2 linked regions of the Homo sapiens genome follow. The protein of the gene in region 2 interacts with the protein of the main gene of each other region in a pairwise test. Each region holds a gene or a part of one and is shown on either strand. Other genes may lie near its edges.

What was found.
Region 1: the proteins of ANXA8 (region 2) and RDH12 interact in a two-hybrid assay, tested with the Homo sapiens proteins (one large-scale study listed by IntAct).

What each region holds. Positions count from the first base shown.
Region 1 is NC_000014.9:67,725,886-67,729,385, reverse strand, and holds part of RDH12 (retinol dehydrogenase 12), read right to left. Parts: intron 3,336-3,500; coding exon 3,231-3,335; intron 2,406-3,230; coding exon 2,196-2,405; intron 495-2,195; exon of another isoform or gene 196-494; coding exon 6-195; exon of another isoform or gene 1-5. UniProt on the Homo sapiens protein: Retinoids dehydrogenase/reductase with a clear preference for NADP. Displays high activity towards 9-cis, 11-cis and all-trans-retinal. Shows very weak activity towards 13-cis-retinol.
Region 2 is NC_000010.11:47,467,493-47,470,804, reverse strand, and holds the end of ANXA8 (annexin A8), read left to right. Parts: intron 1-1,898; coding exon 1,899-1,958; 3' UTR 1,959-2,812; downstream 2,813-3,312. UniProt on the Homo sapiens protein: This protein is an anticoagulant protein that acts as an indirect inhibitor of the thromboplastin-specific complex, which is involved in the blood coagulation cascade.

The DNA of each region.
Region 1 (3,500 bases), on a different chromosome or scaffold from region 2:
CACACCTGAAGTACTTGCCACTCAGGGGCTCCAGGCCCTCAGCCAGGGCGCAGTGCAGGCTGGTCTGCGCCCCCTCCCGTGCCGTCTTGACAAAGGGGGAGAAGAGCCGCCAGAGCAGGCAGAGCAGGGAGGAGTGCCGGACCAGCTCAGAGCGGACGACGCCTGGGTGCACTGCGTAGGTGGTGACCCCGGTGCCTGGGACAAAGAGGGCACAATTAGATCAGGGACACACTCTGAGCCCAGGAAAACAGCTTATCTCCTGCAGCAAAATACACAAGTGAGAAGGAGGGACTCAGGAAACATAACCCCAGGATTCAGCAGGTACCACTCCTGGCCAGGCGGAATTTGAACAGGAATGAATTGATCTTTCAGAAAGATCTATAGCCTTCTCAGCCTTCTATGTTCCAAAAGGAGTGCCTGGTTCGAGGTCCTTCTATTTCAATGTCGTTTTTATACTGTGGCTTTAGTACTACTAATAAACATGACAACATGTAGTGAGTAGTATCAATCATTGACAGTGGTATCTTTATCATTTCTAAAGGAGGAGTTTAGGGGTAGCGATCTGATTGGAAGGTGGTGGGTAGGACTTTATTTTGAGCTGCATTTGCCTGGCAAGCACATTTCATGAGGTATAGATTGAGGGATGGTGATGCAGATTGTGGGGGATTAACACCCCCCCCCCACAAGATATCCCTGGTGCGGTCACTATTTTTCAGTACCAATTATGTGCCAGGGCCATACAACATGCTTTAAATGTATTATTTCATTTAATTCTTAAAGAGGCTTGTAAAATAGAATATTATGTTATGATACCCATTTACAACAAAGAAAACTAAGTCACAGAAAGTTTAAGTAAATTGCCTAAGGTTATACCTGGCAGGGTGCAGGGCCAAGGTCTGAACTCTGATGTAAAGTTAAAAACATGGAATGGACTGTCTGCATTTGAATCCTGGCTCAGCTAGGAACCTTCCTTGGGCAAATTTCTTAATCTGTCAGTGCCTGTCTTTTCATATTTAGAGTGGGGGAAAATAATAGCACCCACCTCACAGGAATGTTGCAAGTATTAAATGAGTTAAGATGTGTAGTACATGGCACACATAAACCTCTCAATTATTATTGTAATAGTTATTGTTTATTTTTATGATTACCGTCTTCTTCTACTGTAGGCATTCTGGAAGTGAAGATCATTGTTCCCAAACTCTGGCTTATTCACTGTAACAAATGGACCCCTAGATCCGCAGATGTCAGAGCCAGCAGCTCACCCAGTGCTCCAGGAGAGCACAGAATCATTAAGGAATAAGAACCAGCCTGACCTGATTTTACAGCTGAGAAGATGAAGTCAGGGGAGGTTAAAGGGGCACATCCACATCCACATCCACATGCGGCTAGCATGTGGTAGAGCAAGAACTTGGACCCAGGGGTCTGAAATCCAGCCCTAACTCCCTGAGTCCAGGCAGTGGCAGCTCTGTAGCTCAGATCACCATGTGGACCTCAGCAAATGGCACCCAGAAGGAAGCACCCTAGGTTTAAAGCTGAGCACCCACATTCCGGTTCTGATGCCCTCACCTGCCATATACTCTTTAGCTGGCCATTTCCTTGGACCTCAGCTCTGCTCTATAAACTAGGAGTAATAATACCTGTTACCAAAGGCCTCTTCTGCCAGATCACCTGAGGTCAGGAGTTTGAGACCAACCTGGACAACATGGTGAAAGCTCGTCTCTTCTAAAAATACAAAATTAGCCAGGCGTGATATTGCGTGCTTGTAATCCCAACTACTCAAGAGGCTGATGCAGGAGAATCACTTGAACCCAGGAGGCAGAGGTCGCAGTGAGCCAAGATCGCACTACTGCACTCCAGCCTGGGCGACAAGAGCGAAACTCAAGTCTCAAAAAAAAAAAAACAAAAAAAACAAAAAGCCTCTGTCTGTTGCAAAAAGCTACTGTGAAAATCAAATGAGATAAGAGATAAGATGTGACACAAATACAAGGTAACTTTTTGAGGTTCTTAACCCCTATTTGATTTTAAGCTCCCTGGGGGCAAGCACTCTGTTTTTATTCCATTCATAATTTCATTCTCCTTAGTCCACAGAGATATTACTGACACGTGCATGTTTGACAGCCTGACTTCCCAAGTTGCTGTGGACCTCTAATTTGGTCTGAGGACCATTTTTGCTATTCCTCTTTCTCCAGACTTACCTTGGAGCCTCTTGGCCAGCTCACGAGTAAAAAGCACATTGGCCAGCTTGCTGTGGCAATAGGCAAAACCCCTGCTGTAGCGCTTCTCGCTCTGGAGGTCGTGGAAGGGAATCTTGCCAATGTGGTGAGCCACCGAGGACACATTAACCACCCGTGCAGGGGCAGACACCTTTAGCCGCTCCAGGAGCAGGTAGGTGAGGAGGAAGTGGCCTGTGAGGAGAGCCAGCAGGGAAGATTGAAAGTGGAATGACAGCCCAGGCTCAGCATGTGGGAGCCAAGAGGACTTCAGTGTTAGCTCACTATCTTCTGGGTGTGAACCAATTTTGATGCCATGAGTAACTCTAATGGTCAGTTTGGTCTGAGTTTGTGGATTCCTCAAAGCAAGAGCCAGAGCTAGACTACAAGTAAGGCAATCATACTTAATTATATTACTTTGTACCTCTGCCCTTGACCCACCTGCTGGCTTCCAACTCCCACTCTGGCCATGATCGCATAACTAGGGACCCAGGTACACTTGTGTATAGGCAGAAGGATAGAACAGTCAGGGAAGATAACATTTGCTTAGGATCAGAAAACATGCTCCATGCTCTCCTCCCTAAAGTCTTTGCCTTGAACGCTGAACCCCACCCTGCCTCGTACTCAAGTTCTCAAGGATTGCCTACCTCCGTGGACCAACCCATGGCTTGGTTGGCCATCATGTAGATGTGACCCCTCCAGCCAAGCCCAGATGCCTGCATAACCCCAGGTCTGGCCCTGCCTGGCAAGCCTTGTACTGCCACTGCCCCATCCAAGAATGACATTCTTCTCCCTGGTATTTCCTGAAATTTGGGGCTTCTTAATGGTATGGGTAGGAAGATCTCACTTTTTTAGACTGATCAGGAGAGGTACAGTGAACAACAAGCCAATGGGTCTAGTCTATTGGAATTCCTAGGCTCTATGAAGGCCCCTGGACATTCTCCACATTTACACAGTGTCATCTTCCTAAAGAAAAGATAGTGGGTGTACCTCATTTTTTAGTCACCCAAAGATACTTACCCAGGTGGTTGACTCCCAGGTGGGTTTCAAAGCCATCAGCTGTCTTGGAATATGGACACATCATTACTCCCGCATTGTTGATCAGAATATGGAGCTGCTTTTCCTCTATAGGGCACAACCAAAGAGATCCTATGGTTAGCAAGGAGTCCCCTAGCTGCCTGTAACAGACCTGCATAATTGCCCTTTCCCTTTGTTCATTAGTTGTCTTTGTTGGGGTAACATTTTGATAGGAGTCACTTGCTCTGCCCCTTCCTTTTAAAACAAGGTATT
Region 2 (3,312 bases):
AGTTCTGGAGCCTTCAAAACACAGACTGATTATCACGCTGCGATAATTGGGAGAAACAGCTCTTCTGGGGGTGTCTGCAAATTGAGGTCTTGATGATTTCATTAGCAGAAGTCACATTAGGACAAATGTATCCCCAAGTTTTCTTTGGCTACTAAGTCAAGTCTCTAGCTCTTCTGCAAATGTCGTTGTTAAGTGCACTTTTCAAGAAACACATAGCTGACAATAGGTGGAAAAGACATTTCTGTTTCCAGATGTTTCAAGATGGCAACATCTTGAAACAGGTGGGCAGGGGCAAGAGAGGATTGGAATTATTCTTGGTTTCACTTGAGGCTCCCCAGCCAATCTTGTCGGGAGACAGGAGGGCAAGGCACACACCAGCCTGGACTGTGCTGTCACCTGCAGACAGTCTGAGCTGATTGTCATTAACCCTTTTAACCACACATGGTAACTTACGGCATCAGAGAGATTTCTACAGATACATGAAGCCACCCTCTTCAAATTTTATCTAATGTTGTTACTTAAGAAAATTGAGTTAGAATCATGAATACATTGACCAAACGTTTCTTTTTAGTGTAGACCACAGATGTCATTAAAGCAAAAATGGTTTTCAACACTAATATGAGTTAAAAACTCCTGCATTGAAATTAAGAGGCAAATGTATAAACACTCCAAGTATAACTCATGTATTTGAAAAAGTAAACAAAATTAATGCTTTTCTTTCTAAAAACTATTCGAAAAATTGTCCTCAAAATAATAAAAATCACCAGGCGTAGTGGCCCACACCCGTAATCCCAGTGCTTTGGGAGGCCAACGCGGGAGGATCGCTTGAGCCCAGGAGTCCAAGGCTGCCGTGAGCTAGGACTGCATCACTGCACTCCAGCCTGGGTGACAGAGTGAGATCGTGTCTAGAAAGGAAAAAGTTAAAAAAAATTTCATTGTAGTTTGAAACCCGTAATGAGATTTCAGGCTCAAAACAGGCAAATTTTACTAAATGGTGAAAAGTAGACAATAACCATGAGACCTAAACTGGTCCAGAGTGTGGAAAGTGGGTCTAGCCCCAGTCTACCCCTTACTCACCATGCCGTTGTGAATGAATTCACTCCCCTCTCTTGGCCCCGCTGTCCTCAACTGCATGAAGAAGAATCTGGGTGATCTGACCTGGCCCATTTCCCAGCTCTGTATGCAGACCCCGGACTAGCCAGTCCCATCAGGACCTACCACTATCTAAGAAACAGGGCTCCTCAGTCATCGGACCACAAGGTCAGTCTCATCAGGAGACAAACACTGTGGACCCGATGTGAGCCAGATGCAGGGCAGACCAGCTCGCCTTCCTCCTGCTGTACCCTCACCACGTCTCAGCAAGATGCACAGCAGCACAGCATTGATCTCATTTCATAGATGAGTCCCACAGAGGTGAAGGGGCTTGCCTCGGCCACACCGTCAGGGTGCGATGGTCCAGGCTCCCTCCACCCCCGGCCCTGCCCCCAGGTGTGTGCTGATGCCTCACTCTCAGCCTTGATTCCCAAGCTGCCACAGCAGGTGTTGAATAATGATGCATCCTGTTGTGTAAATGAATGGCTGGGCACCCTGGCTCCCGAATAGAAGAACCCTGGGACAGCTGACCCCTTCCTTGTTTAGGAGTGGAACTGTCTCTGATTCATTTTCCACATCAATCCTGCATGTAGTTGGTAAGAGAATCAAAAGGAAATGTAAAGGAATAGCCTGAAATTAAAAACAAGGAAAGAGGGGTGATGGCACAACCCCTGCGGCTAGGAACCCTGGAGGGCCGGGCCAGGTGCAGGCCAGGGGCACACCTCTTAGTCATAATAACACAGCCGCCACTGCCGAGCCAGGCACAAGCAAACCCCTTCTCACGCTTATGCGCCTCCTGCCCACAGGAAGACACCAGCGGTGACTACAAGAACGCCCTGCTGAGCCTGGTGGGCAGCGACCCCTGAGGCACAGAAGAACAAGAGCAAAGACCATGAAGCCAGAGTCTCCAGGACTCCTCACTCAACCTCGGCCATGGACGCAGGTTGGGTGTGAGGGGGGTCCCAGCCTTTCGGTCTTCTATTTCCCTATTTCCAGTGCTTTCCAGCCGGGTTTCTGACCCAGAGGGTGGAACCGGCCTGGACTCCTCTTCCCAACTTCCTCCAGGTCATTTCCCAGTGTGAGCACAATGCCAACCTTAGTGTTTCTCCAGCCAGACAGATGCCTCAGCATGAAGGGCTTGGGGACTTGTGGATCATTCCTTCCTCCCTGCAGGAGCTTCCCAAGCTGGTCACAGAGTCTCCTGGGCACAGGTTATACAGACCCCAGCCCCATTCCCATCTACTGAAACAGGGTCTCCACAAGAGGGGCCAGGGAATATGGGTTTTTAACAAGCGTCTTACAAAACACTTCTCTATCATGCAGCCGGAGAGCTGGCTGGGAGCCCTTTTGTTTTAGAACACACATCCTTCAGCAGCTGAGAAACGAACACGAATCCATCCCAACCGAGATGCCATTAACATTCATCTAAAAATGTTAGGCTCTAAATGGACGAAAAATTCTCTCGCCATCTTAATAACAAAATAAACTACAAATTCCTGACCCAAGGACACTGTGTTATAAGAGGCGTGGGCTCCCCTGGTGGCTGACCAGGTCAGCTGCCCTGGCCTTGCACCCCTCTGCATGCAGCACAGAAGGGTGTGACCATGCCCTCAGCACCACTCTTGTCCCCACTGAACGGCAACTGAGACTGGGTACCTGGAGATTCTGAAGTGCCTTTGCTGTGGTTTTCAAAATAATAAAGATTTGTATTCAACTCAAAGTATCTTTGGATGTTTAGCAGGGACCAGTGTAGGACCAATTTAATTTGTCAGAAACAGAGCTTTGGGGAGCCACGAAGCCTGAGCGCCTCGTGGGCATCTCCCAGTGGGAACACTGGATGGGCTGTACCTGAGCACCTCATGGGCATCTCCCAGTGGGAACACTGGATGGGCTGCAGCCACCGCTGCCCTGGGGACAACTCTTGCAAATGAGGGTAGATTCTATTCACCTCCTGATGTGTAGGCTACATCCTTGTATCTCAGGGTTAGAGAGGGATTTAAAGTCAGCTGGTGCTGTTCCAACCTGTGGCCTGACTACCCCCTTGGCATCCACCCAGGGGTGGTCCTTGGTGTGCTTGGGGTGCACTTGGGTACTCAGGGTGTACTGGCGATACTCAGGGTGCAGTTGAGTACTCCGGGTGCACTTGGCTGCCTCCAAAGATGGGACTCACTGCGTCCTTTGACAGCCCAATCTTTTTCCAATGGATGTGACCAGCAAAGT